Linked DNA regions of Homo sapiens: regions 1 and 3 are each reported to be linked to region 2. Evidence: microRNA targets listed by miRTarBase, many of them from high-throughput screens and not tested one by one. Region 2 holds a microRNA gene; each other region holds the end of a gene's coding sequence.

Region 1 (4,135 bases), not on the chromosome of region 2:
CGGGGTGTCGGGGGGTGCTGGGACCGCGTGGGTTGAACCCGGCCTCTTGGCTCATTTTGTCTCCTCACTCTCCTTCCTGGGCCTGCCTCTTCCCATTTCCCACTGGTCCAAGATCTGGCTGCGATTCTTCCCCTCCTCTCTGCCCCTTCCTTGCCTGTTGTTCTCCGTCTCCACCTGCACCGGCCCGTGCCTCTGCTCGCCGAGATCCTTTCTTCCCATGGCCGTTTCCCTTCCCGTGTCCGCCCCCTCAGTCTTGTGCCCTGCCCCTCACTTTCGTGTCCCCGCCTCCACCCCTCAGTGAAGGACGCCGACGGGGTCCTCTGCCGGTACAAGAAGATCCTGGGCACCTTCCAGAAGCTCAAGAGCATGTCGCGGGCCTTCGAGCACCACCGCGTGGACAGGAACACCGTGGCGCTGACCACGCCCATCGCCGAGCTGCTCATTGTGGCCCCCGAGAAGCTGGCCGAGGTGGGCGAGTTCGACCCCTCCAAGGAGCGCCTGCTCGAGTACTCCCGCCGCTGCTTTCTGGCCCTGGACGACGAGACGCTCAAGAAGGTGCAGGCGCTCAAGAAGAGCAAGCTGCTGCTGCCCATCACCTACCGCTTCAAGCGGTGATCGCACCACGCCTCCGCGCCTCCACCCGGGCCTTCCTCCCCCGTGGACCCCGGTGGATGACCTGCCCCTCTCCCCGCCGCGCCCCTGCCCCTCCTCCTCGCTCCCTGGGTTGGGGGCTCCCTTAGCCGGGCCCCCAAGCGCGACGGCCCCGGACCGGCCGCGGCCCCTTCCCGAACGCCGGCACCCCCTTCCGCTTGGGCTGCCCAGCCCTGTCCTCGCCGGGCCCCTTCCTCCTGGAAAACCAGGCAGGCGGGTGCCCCCCCCTCGAGTGGGGGACTGTACAGACCCCGTCTCCGCCCTGGCCCCGCGGAGGAGCTGCCCACCTGATTCCCGGACAGACCTCCCCAACTCCGCGTGAGACAGAGAATTATTCAGATAATTTAAATTAAAAAACGACGTGAAAATTTGGAATAAACTTGGCCTCAGCCTCTTCCTAGGAGGGGGACGTGCCTGGGAGGGGGCGGCCGTCGCCCCGAAGACGGTGACGGGGTTGCGGGGGCTTCCAAGGGGGTGGGTGGTCAGGCGGGAGGACGGGTAGGATACGGTGTAATTAGCCCCCCGGAGGCAGAGATGGAGAGTGAAGCAGCTGCGCCCCAGAAAACTCGGAGGCAGAGCTCGGGAAAAGAAGCGCGGACACAGCCGGGCGCGGTGGCTCACGCCTGTAATCCCAGCACTTTGGGAGGCCGAGGCAGGCGGATCACGAGTTCAGGAGATCGAGACCATCCTGGCTAACACGGTGAAACCCCGTCTCTACTAAAAATACAAAAAATTAGCCAGGTGTGGTGGCGGGCGCCTGTAGTCCCAGCTACTTGGAAGGCTGAGGCAGGAGAATCGCTTGAACCCGGCAGGCGAAGGTTCCAGTGAGCCGAGATCGCGCCACTGCACTCCAGCCTGGGCGACAGAGACTCCGTCTCAAAAAAAAAAAAAAAAAAGTAAAAAGAAGCGTGGACACTACCCGCTGGGCTACCCAGACCGGAGCGCGGCGCGAGAGGCGTGAGTCGATGACCTCTAGCGAGGGAGGCCACCTAGCGGCCAGGCCAAGTCTGGAGGATACTTCCGTTGGGCCGCCAGGGGGCAGTAACGCCAGATCATCTGTCTCCCGGAAGTAATGCCAGATGATCCGTCTGCCGCGCCTGCGCGGCGGGAAGAGCCGGAGCGCGTTGATGTGGTTGCCGAGACAACCAAGAGGGTGGCCGGATTTAACGGCTGGGGATTAAGCACTTTCACCGTTGTAAGGGAAATCTCGCGCACGCGCAATGGGGACTGAAACCTGGTCCCCGCAACCCCCTTCACGGGAGCAGTGGGAGAGCGCGCCACAGAACGACTTTTACGCAGGCGCAGAAGCCTGTTTCCCCTCACCCGCGGCTTCCACCCTGCGCAGGCGCAAAAAGCCGCGCTGGCAACCTCCGCAGCGGTCGCGCGCACCCTTCATCCCTCTTGCTGCTTTTGTCTGGCACAACCTTCTCAGGCCCTCCGCGAGGCCGGCCCTTTTTTTCTTTCACTTTCCCCACCCGGAGAGCCAGGTGCCGAGAACTAGGACCTCGTCCCCTTCTCTATCCCTTCCCCTGATCCATCTCGTCTCTGTTCTCCTTCCCTTTTCCGTTCCCGAAGCCGGAAGGAGCCGAGGTACCCACGGAAAAAGTCGAAGCTGTCCCCGGAGAGTGAGGCCTTCACGAAGCGGTGGCGGAAGGAGCCGAAGTTCTCTGATCGGAGGCGTGAGCAAGTGGCATCTCCGGAAAGAGCCGAAACACGGACTCGAGCTTAATCCCAGGAGGGGCCCGAGGGCGAGATCCGGAAATCTCCGGAAAGAGCCGAAGGCCGGGACGGTTAGGATTGTCGGAAGTGGCCGATTGCTTGGACAGGGCCGGCGGAGAAGATCGGAGCAAGTCCGTGGAAGAAGCCAAAGACTGGGACGGATTGAATTGTTGGAAGAACCCGAACTCGCAGAGGGGACTGGGCGCAGTGGCACACGAGGACACACGGAAACCTCCGAACGTTGAGGAGATAATCTCGGAAAAGTTACGGAAACCTGGGAAGTCGGCGAAACCCTACGTTCGGGTGTTTTCGGAAGCAGCCGAAGCGGCCGCCTGCTTCGCCTTCGTCCAGTATCCGGAGATAGCCGAGGCGCTTCGGAGCCAGGCTCGGGGGGAGGGGCAAGCTCGCGGGCGGGCGGGCGGGTGAGGGGGCGGAGCCCGGGCGGGGCGGGGAGGGCTGCCGGAGGCTTGATTAGGTAGGAGGTGGCGAAGCGCCGGCGGCGGCCGGAAGTAGCCGAAGCCAGCGGCGGAAGTAGCCGAAGCGGCTGGAGCGGGCGGCAAGGCGAGGCGAAAGCTGCACAGGGCCCTACGCGGCCGCCTCAGCATGTCGGACTTCGACGAGTTCGAGCGGCAGCTCAACGAGAATAAACAAGGTGAGGGCACCGGGGTCGCGGGGCGGAGGTGTGGGCGGCTCCTCGCGTCGCTCTTTGCCCCCCCGCCATTTTCTCCCTCGCTTCCCCCCACTTCACGGCCGCGCGGCGCCCCCCAACCCTGGTTCCGTGGCGCGCGCCTCGTTCACGTGACGTCCCCAGCGTTCCGCCGCGCGCTAGGCGAGGGGAAGGGGGCGGCGGGGCGCGGGCCCGTGACGCATGCGCACGGCGGCTGTCCCTGCGCCCCACGTGGTCCTGGCGGAGGTGGCGCGGGGGACGCGGCACGAGCGCGCCAGATGCCTCGACGTGAACTTTTGTTTTTTAAAATCTTTTTGGTTTCTCTGAAAAGGAGATTATGTTAGTCCCCGTAATCTCTTTTCTCCCGCTGCCTTGGCACTTCCGCTTCCGGTCGGGCCCACGGCAGCGTCTCCACGCCCCCTTTGTTTCCAAAATGGCGGTTGTGAGAACTTGGTGGGGGGGCCCCTTTCCTTCCTTCACGTGGATGAGGGCAGAGCCGTTTCGGCGGATGCTTGGAGGCCACGGGCCCCTCGCGTACCCCTTTTCCTTTTTGCTGATTTGCTCTGATCTCTCCCGCCAGGTGGTTTCTGCCCCGTCTGTTGGTAGTGGGGCGCCTCATATTAACGTGTTTGGCACATGTTGCCTAAAAGCATCTGCATTCTTTGAGTGTCCGCACGCACACATCCTGCATATGCGGGGCTTTTGGCGGTCCCGAGAATCGCGATATGGAGTGTTTGAGACAAACCTCAAATCATTTACAATCCCAATCTCAGGGCACCTGATAATACTCAGTCTCAGATCTCAATATAGAGATAAGAAAACAGGTTCTGAGGGAGGAAGAGGGATCTGGCCCACTGCGCTAAACTCTTCACTTACGGGGAAGGTGGGAGGCAGGTTCCCTTCAGGGTATCGAAAATTGTGATGGGTTAGAACAAAAAGCCTGGGGCCCTGATCTTAGGGATTCCAATAATATTAGAAGTGGGAGAGTTGTTAAGACGCTTTAAAAATCCTCCGTGTTTCAGTTTGTGAAGAAATACAGGACCAGGGAAGATTGGAGACTTGTTTCTTTTCAGGCTTCAGCTGCCCATGTTCCTAGCT
Region 2 (4,135 bases):
TCCTAAGGTGGGGCACAGGTGCTATGCGGAGAGAAGGGGGCTTGGAGGAGTGGCGGGAAAGAGGCTCGAGGGAAGGTTCTGGCGGCCACCGGATGTGGGCATGGGGCCCACCCACCTGCATGCCACCCCCGATTTCCCCATGGGGAAGGCAGGAAGCTGCCCAGCCCAGGGCCCCTGGCTGGGGGAGGGGAGTAGGGTGTGGGGGTGGGCAGGGGACAGCGTCGGCTGAGCCCAGCCCATACCATCTTCCCCCAGCGTTCTCCAAGCCTCTCCATGGGCTTGGCTCTGGAAGCAAGAGGAATGGGTTTGGGGAGGTAGGAGCGGTAGAGAGAAAACCACCCAGTGACTCCTTCCCAGAAGGCCATGGACCTCTTCTCTGGGTCCTCCGTTTAGGCCCACACAGACCTTAGGGAGCTGTCAGATTCAGGGCCTAGAAGAGGACTGGCATGGGGGCAGTGGGGAGGGAGATGGCCCCACATCCTTCCCTCCAGGAAGGGGGTCCTTCAACCTGGAAAGTTGCCCCATTCCCAGGTCCCTAAAATGGGACAGAGAAAGGGGGAATGGGGCCTTTCACCCCCTTGAGTCTAAAGAGAAAGTGGTGAGGAGGGTTGCCTTGCAGGGCCAGCTGGCCAGAAATGGGGCGATACTCCTTTAAGAGACCACCGCTGCCTCTGACCTGGGTGGAGGGGAAGTGGCTGCCCCAGGCGATAAGAGGATAAGAATATCAAAGTTGTGCAGTAACCTGGGTTCCTGGACCCCCATTCTTCAGGGCTCCTCCCCTGAGAGCATCTTACCTCCTACTCCTGCTTATGATGCCTCCATAGCCCTCACTTCAGAGGCGTCCTGTCCCCACAAAAGAGAGTCACAGAATGGGACCCAGGAGCCCGGCTTCTGGGCCCAGCTATGCCATAGACCCCTCAGCATGTGACCTGTGGCGAGTCAGAGCTGAGGTTCCAAGGGACACACATGGCTCCAACAGTCTCCAATCTAGCCCTTCTCCTGTCCTGAGCAGGGTGAGGTGTCCCTGCTGCCTGTTGTCTTGTGACAACAGAGGCTGATTTTCTCTGTACAACCTCAATGCCTAAAGACCACCAATAGTTTTTATTTTTATTTATCTATTTTCTTTTTTTGAGAAGAGAGCTTAGGGCCCAGCTTCTCTGTCAACGGAGCTTCTGGGGTCAGGGGGTTTCTGGATAGTCTAGGCCCTCTGCTGGTTCCCATCCCGAGGCTGGGGCTAAAGAAGGATGGAATGAGGACCTGGACTTTCCCCAGCCCAGCGATGACTCCCGACTCTGCTGGGCCTCAAACCAGAAGAAATGGTACAGGGCCAGAGACAAAATCAAGGACAGGGGAAGGGGCAGAGTCTAAAATAAGAATACAGAGACAATAAGAAACTTTGTGAGAATGGCTAGGATACATGGAATGGGCCGTCCACCTGTGACTGGAACAAGGCTGCTGGACTCGAAGCCTGACGTAGGCTGCCACCACCCAGATGCGTGGCCTGTGTGACTGACCAGCAGGTGCCTGAGGGAAGAGCAGCCAGTGCCTGCATGGAAACACACATGCAGACACAGCGGCCCAGAGAGCCCAAAACATTCAGACACAGACACGCTGTCGCCGACACACCCCGCAGTCCTGTACACACACCTAGAGGAGGCCTATCTACACTCCTGGACACACCTGCGTCCTCCCCAAGAGACACAGGGAGGGTCACCTGGGAATCTGGGGCCAGTGCTTGACAGGGTGACTGGAAGGAGCTGGGGGTGGATTCAGAACATAAGTACCTCTGTGAGAGTGGCCTGGCTCCCACTCCTGCCTCCAAAGCCACCTGTTGCCTGAGTTCCCCAGGATGAGAAAAACCAAACCCTTGATGTCTTTGTGGAGAGAGGAGTTCAAGTTGATACTTCAAACTCCGCCTCCTTGGCGGCCGATCCAGGTTCAAGCAGGCTGTCACTGGGCAACCTTGGCTCACTTGGACTTGCTGTCAAAAGTCCCCCACGGCCCTCCCTGGTTCTGACATTCAGATTCTTGCTCAGAGGAAGTAGGGGGCGGGGGCGGCAGGAACAAGGTGGGAACAGCCCTTCATCAGGATAGAGGGATCTGGGCTTGGAATCCTGGAGGGCTCCAGGCTCATGGTCCCTCACTGCCACCCCCACCTTACCGACCTGGGGGACAACCATCTCTGTGTGCCAAGCTGAGGCTGTGGGTAGGCAAAGGTGAGCCGGCAGAGAAAAGGACACAGGACCTGTCCTTGGGCACTCCCAGCCTGATAGGCAGTGTGTACGAGTGTGTGTGTCAGTGCAAGTGAGTGTCTTGTACCCAAAGCAGGGGCAGAGCTTCAGGTCTGATGGGGACACTTGGTTCCTACTTCTAGTGAGCACTGAATCTGAGGGTGAAGTAGACACACACATCTACATTTAACATAGTAACGGCAACAGGCACAAGGCCATCCCAGGTGGCAGTTGCCAGGGCCCAAGGGGCTGGGATGTTGGATGCTGTAGTAGCAACCTTAGAGTCACAGGAGTCCCATCAGAGAAGGCTTCCTGGAGAATGTGAGTACAGGTGGAAGAGGGTTTAGAAGGAGAGATTGGGCAAGGAGGAGAAACAGGGAGAAAATTGTCTTTTGAAGGCCTAATGCCTGTAAGGAGAGCAGGCCCAGAGGGTGGAAGAAATGACACAAGCTCATTGTCCGCACATGAAGGCAGAAAAGAAAACCAACCCTTCCCTGCCATCTGCATGGGCCTGGGGCCCTCACTCACAGGCAGGCAAGCAGCCAGTGGGAGATGGCAGCCCAGATAACCTGCCTTACAAAGAGCCAACAAGAGAGAAGCCACAGACTTAACCACTCACAAACAGGAAGTCCAGAAGGCAGAGCAGACCCGCCCTCCAGTAAGCTACAGTTGGGGACAGGCCTGGCCACAAAGGAGGGAAACTGAGCCCCTAGCATTGCAAAATGGGGCTAAAGCAAATTGGAGTCAATAGTCCCAAATGTTGAGACCCTTCCCCATCTCCCTGGAGGGGCAGCCAAGGGAAGCAGGTGCCAAGAGAGGCAAGTGCCTTAAGAACCTAAGACAGCCCATGTCCCCTACAGAGATCATCTCAGCACCTCAGAAGATCTGTCTCATCTCAGAGCCTTGGGAGCACAAGGAGTGCTAAAGGGCCTCCAGGCAAGGAGGGCGGGCAAACTGGCTGCCCCTCAGCCCCTGCCTGCTCGTACCAGACTCCCCTAGGTTTAATTTCATACTCTCCTGCTCTACTCTGTCTGGCAAGGGGCAGCTCCAATGCACAGTGGCCCACACTAGGAGGTCACTTCGCACTGGGGCAGGGTTCTGGCTCAGATCTCCTGGGATCATAAGACCCAAGGACTTTTAAGCAGCAAGGTTAGGCAGCAACTGGTCCCGAGTCAGGAAACAGAGCTGCAAGCCCAGAGAGAGGCAGAAGGCAGCCTGAGGTCACAAAACAAGTTAGGGCCAAGTTGGGTTCTTTCCACAACATCTGGGAAAAGGCAGGACGGGCTGGGTGGAAAGGGGGTGTGGGTGTGAGGAAGGCTACCCTGACCACTGCTGTGGGAGTGGCCGTGAAACCAGAAGCTTTCTCCTCTGGGATCTTCTGGGGACACAAGTGGAGAGATGAAAGCTCCCTCTGGACTCTCTCCACACACAGGTGCTGGGTTTAACTTGCATAGCTGCACCTGCTCCAGTTCCAACTGCTGCAAATAAATTGTGTGTGTATGTGTGGCGGGGACAGGGAGGGGGTCCAAGAGCTGGTTTTCTGCCTGGAACCCACTACAATCCCTCATCAGCCCCACTCCCTATCCCAACATCAGGATCACCAAGCAGAGGATAAAATTAAGTGTCAAGAAACTAGGGGTCTAATCCTCACCCTGTGATTATTTATGGTACAATTCTGGGCCAGTCACTGAATCTGCCCCTAAACCCCAGCCTGTTTCTTCACCTATAAAAATGGGGAGGGAGTTGACCAAAAGACTTGTTTGTGCTCTAGGAAGTCCCCAAGAGCACAGGAGCCCAGAGACCTCGCAGGAGGAAGCAGCAGTATCTGTGTTCCAAATCCTGCCCAGCCCCCAGGCAGCCATGGTATCTTCTCAGCTGGCTCGAGGGCACACCTCCCAAAATGC
Region 3 (4,109 bases), not on the chromosome of region 2:
GATTACAGGCGTGAGCCACCGCGCCCGGCCCTTCCAAGATTTTGATTATGTTTTTCTTTTTTCTTTTCTTACCTTGTGTTTAGATATCCTTTTAGATTTGGATTCTCCTGCTCCTGTCACGACACCAGCACCAACTCCAGTTTCTGTAAGCAATGACTTGTGGGGAGACTTCAGCACTGCCTCCAGGTAATGGGCATAGTGAAACTAGCATACTCTCAATCAGGGTGTAGGAGATATGTACAGTCAATTGAAATCTTTGATCTGGAGAAGCAATGGATATGCAGGTCACATAGAGTCTTTTGGAAGAGTTCTAGTGAAGGAAATATAGTAGTGCTGGGAATGGGGGGACAAAAAAGCTGTAGGATGAGGTTTGAGTGGGATATTTCAGGCCTTTGTAAGTAGAATTGCCATGAAGTGTGGTTTTGGAAATTCTAGGCAGTGATTTCTTAGAAACTATTAAGTAAAGAATGGAGTTGTTATCCTAATATTATGTCTCTGGCTTTCTCTGTTCTCCTGTCTTGCAGCTCTGTTCCAAACCAGGCACCACAGCCATCCAACTGGGTCCAGTTCTGAATGGCATTGGCAGGACATTAAGGACAGACTTGAGGAATAAAAATGACCTTGAGGGCACCAATCTGTGAGGGAAGTTAGGAACCCATTTCCTCCCCAGAACCAGAATGACTGGACAATCTTTTTCATAGCTTCTCCATCACATTCAAGCTGGTTTATGTCACTCCCCTGTGTTGTTACTTGTACAGCCAAGAAAGTATCTGTTATCTCCTGCGTAGTACCAAGGTAGGGGACTAGTGGATCTTATCATAGTTTTGGCTGACTATGCAGGGCTTAAAAGGCCAGCGTCTGTTTGAGGGGGAATGACCTCTAACATCTGTAAAATTTGTCTCATCTTTTAATTTCTTTAACTTATTTCAAAATCATCTCATGACCCTTGTGTGCCTCTTTGTGAAGCCCTATTTAGCAATTTCAGGGGAGTCAAAAACCTTGCAACTTCCTTCTCCACTAACCCAGGACTAAAAATGGACAGGCTGACCTCAGTGTTTACAAATTCAGAATTTTGATAGGGGTAGATATGGAGAAAGACCTATTTCCTGGGTCTCTGCTGTGTAGTCTCCTTCAGGCTTATTGTGCTCAGTGAACATCCAGTGCTGGGTGCAGCTCCATCACCCTCTTGTGTGTTTACATGTCTCTTTCTATGATAAGAGGGTTGTGTTGGTGGCACCTCCACTACTCTTTTCTGTTTGTTGAGTTTGAATTGTGTTAACATCTTTGATCAGTGGGTGTATCTGTAATGAAGGAGGTTCAAGAGGCTGTGCTTTCCAAGTGATAGTCTATAGGAGTGTTTAATTTCTTGCAGCTCCATCTGGTTGCTGCATTTGAAGCATGGCATTAATTTGTATTTGCCCTGTTCTTTGACCTAAAGTTGAAGGGTTTAGAGTTTTTAACCTGATCTGTAGAGCAGAGAGGTTGAAAGCACTTAACTCTTGTTTAGTATCCTCATTGCCTTGCTGCCTGGGTATCTGGCCCCTTTCCATAAACATTTCTTTTCAGTTCATGTAGTTCTTTAATAGAAAGCTGCTATTATGTATATTGTCATTTGTGAAGGAAGTTGGAGAGTCACAGCTTTACTGTGACAGGTTTTGCCCAAGGCTTTGATACCTGTCACCCAGGGTATCTTAAAAGCAAGTTGTTCTCCCACTACTTTCCTTTCCCTCTGCCCTGCCATTCCTATTACAATGCTGTGAAAAAAGTTCTGCTTCTTAGGTGAATGGGTACTTTCTATTTTGTTTCTAAACGAGCAATTTTGAGGATGAAATGGGAAGATATCATTGCTTCCTTTTTGCACCTATTGGGTATGTACACTCTGGCCGAAGGGAGTCCTTATGTTTAGTTTCAAAATATATTACTTTCCTGGATTCTCTTCTTCACTTTTTCTGACTTTGGGTCCATTTTCTTTTCATTGCCTCCTTTTCCAGGCAGCTCTATTCTTGCAGAGCCATAGCAGGACATGTTAAAATTCCAATAGAAAACACTAAAAGGAAAGTCTGTGGAATCACTAGTGACTAAATACTGGGAACCTATTTTCTCAATCTTCCTCCATGTTGTGTTCTTTGTATTCTTGAGATGATAATATATTATGTATTTGAATTCCTGAAAAATGGAAAATGTTTAAGATATATGTATATAAAGTGTATGCTGTATTGGTGCAATAATGGTAATTAAAAATATGAAAAAAGTGTCTCTTTTATCTTTTAATTTGCTTATTTGATTACCTTTTAAATTTAATTGACCAAATATAAGTGGACCAGTAGTTAATAAAGGATATTTATATCACTCTTTATTAAGAAATAAGGCTTTTAAGAAGTTGAGACTAGACCTCTGTGTTCATGGTTCTAAAATGACAGAGCACTCTGTGTAATCAATGAATATTCATTATTTATTTTCTGGTACAGTTAATTTAATTTGCTTCAAATTATCTTCATGATCTAGGCCACCTCTTATATCTTAACTGTAATCAGCAGAAATGAAAGGGATCAGTATAAGAGAAATAACTAAGGTCAGAACCACAGACTTTGGAAACCAGAAAAGGTCTTGGGAGTTCTTGTTCAGTGATTGCCACAGGAGATAAATTAGCTAGATGTGGTTGGTGGTTTACTCCTGTAATTCCAGCACTTTGAGAGGCTAAGGTGGGAAGATTGGTTGAAGCCAGTTCAAGACCAGCCTGGGCAGTATAGCGAGATCTTATCTCTACAAAAAATCTAAAAATTAGCTGGGCATGGCAGCATGTGCCTGTAGTCCTAGCTACTTGGGAGGCCGAGGTGGGAGGGTCACTTGAGCCTGGGAGGACGAGGCTGCAGTGAGTTGTGATTGTACCATGGTACTCTAGCCTGGATGATAAAATGAGACTCTCTCAAAAGAAAAAACAAAAAACATGAATCAAGGCTGGGCATGGTGGCTCATACCTATAATGCTAGCACTTTGGGAGGCTGAGGCGGGTGGATCACCAGAAGTCAGGAGTTCGAGACCAGCCTGGCCAACATGGTGAAACCCTGTCTCTACTACAAATACAAAAATTAGCTGGGCGTAGTGGTGGGTGCCTGTAATCCCAGCTACTCTGGAGGCTGAGGCAGGAGAATCACTTGAACCTGGGAGGCAGAGGTTGCAGTGGGCTAAGATTACACCACTGCACTCCAGCCTGGGTGACAGTGAGACTCCATCTCCAAAAAAAACAAACAAAACCCCCCCAAAACCATAAAACTATAGCTACAGTAATTTGTTAGTGGATACACAGTATGAAAATATGAAAATTGGTATCAAAAACAAAATGTGGCTGGGTGTGGTGGCTCACGCCTGTAATCCTAGCACTTTGGGAGGCTGAGGTGGGAGTATTGCTTGAGACCAGGAGTTCAAGACGAACCTGGCCAACATAGTAAGACCCTGTCTCAAACAAAACAAAAAATATATATGGGAGGGAAAGTTAAAGTGCAGAGTTTTTGTATGTGATTTAAATTATCAGCTTAAAATAAACTGTTAAAAAGTGTTATGTAAACCTCATGGTAACCACAAAGCAAAAACTATAGTAGATACACAAAAGATAAAGAGAACAATCAAAGGACTATAGAAAATCATCAAATAACAAAGGAATAGAGCAAGAGAGGAAGAAAGGAACAAAGGGCCCACAAAACAATCAAAAAACAATTTGAAAAATGGCAGCAGTAAGTCCTTACCTATTAATGATTATTTTGAATGCAAAATGGATTACATTCTCCAATCAAAAGACAGAGTGGCTAAATGAATTAAAAAAACAAGACTCAACTGTATCCTGCCTACAAGAGCATCACTTCACCTTTAAGGACACATAGAGACTGAAAGTTAGGCATGGAGACAGATATTTAATGCAAATGGAAACCAAAAGAGGGCAGGGGTAGCTATATTACTATATAGTCCCTCCTTATCTGAGGTTTTGTTTTCTGTGCTTTCAGTTACCTGCAGTCAACTGTGCTTTGAAAATACTAACTGGAAAATTACAAAAATTATTCATAAGTTTAAAAGTGGCACACTGGGGGCCGGGCGCGGTGGCTCACCCCTGTAAT

The links. Region 2 holds the annotated microRNA hsa-miR-4736 (AGGCAGGUUAUCUGGGCUG, at 2,788-2,806, opposite strand). A microRNA usually pairs through its seed, bases 2 to 8, with sites in the 3' UTR of a target mRNA and lowers its output. Matches are read on the target gene's strand: a 7mer-m8 pairs with bases 2 to 8, a 7mer-A1 pairs with bases 2 to 7 and ends in A, and an 8mer does both.
Region 1: miRTarBase lists CCDC106 as a target of hsa-miR-4736. Seed matches in the 3' UTR shown: 7mer-m8 at 675-681.
Region 3: miRTarBase lists NECAP1 as a target of hsa-miR-4736. Seed matches in the 3' UTR shown: 7mer-A1 at 1,734-1,740.

What each region holds. Positions count from the first base shown.
Region 1 is chr19:55,652,132-55,656,266 of GRCh38, forward strand. It overlaps CCDC106 (coiled-coil domain containing 106), which reads left to right. Exons shown (of 5, transcript NM_001370470.1): 5 at 299-1,030. The coding sequence ends at 615. U2AF2 (U2 small nuclear RNA auxiliary factor 2) reads left to right here and starts at 2,904. Exons shown (of 12, transcript NM_007279.3): 1 at 2,904-3,022. The coding sequence starts at 2,974. RefSeq lists enhancers at 2,030-2,699, 3,650-3,729 and silencers at 2,750-2,799, 2,890-2,939, 3,150-3,289.
Region 2 is chr17:58,333,217-58,337,351 of GRCh38, forward strand. It overlaps MIR4736 (microRNA 4736), which reads right to left and starts at 2,806; the gene lies at 2,760-2,806. All of the region lies in intron 2 of TSPOAP1-AS1 (TSPOAP1, SUPT4H1 and RNF43 antisense RNA 1), which reads left to right. RefSeq lists enhancers at 362-451, 1,032-1,081, 2,106-2,606, 2,192-2,411, 2,482-2,531 and 3 more.
Region 3 is chr12:8,095,518-8,099,626 of GRCh38, forward strand. NECAP1 (NECAP endocytosis associated 1) reads left to right here. Exons shown (of 8, transcript NM_015509.4): 7 at 84-186; 8 at 525-2,364. The coding sequence ends at 573. Among named protein-coding and RNA genes, the nearest start is that of NECAP1, 15 kb to the left of the region's middle.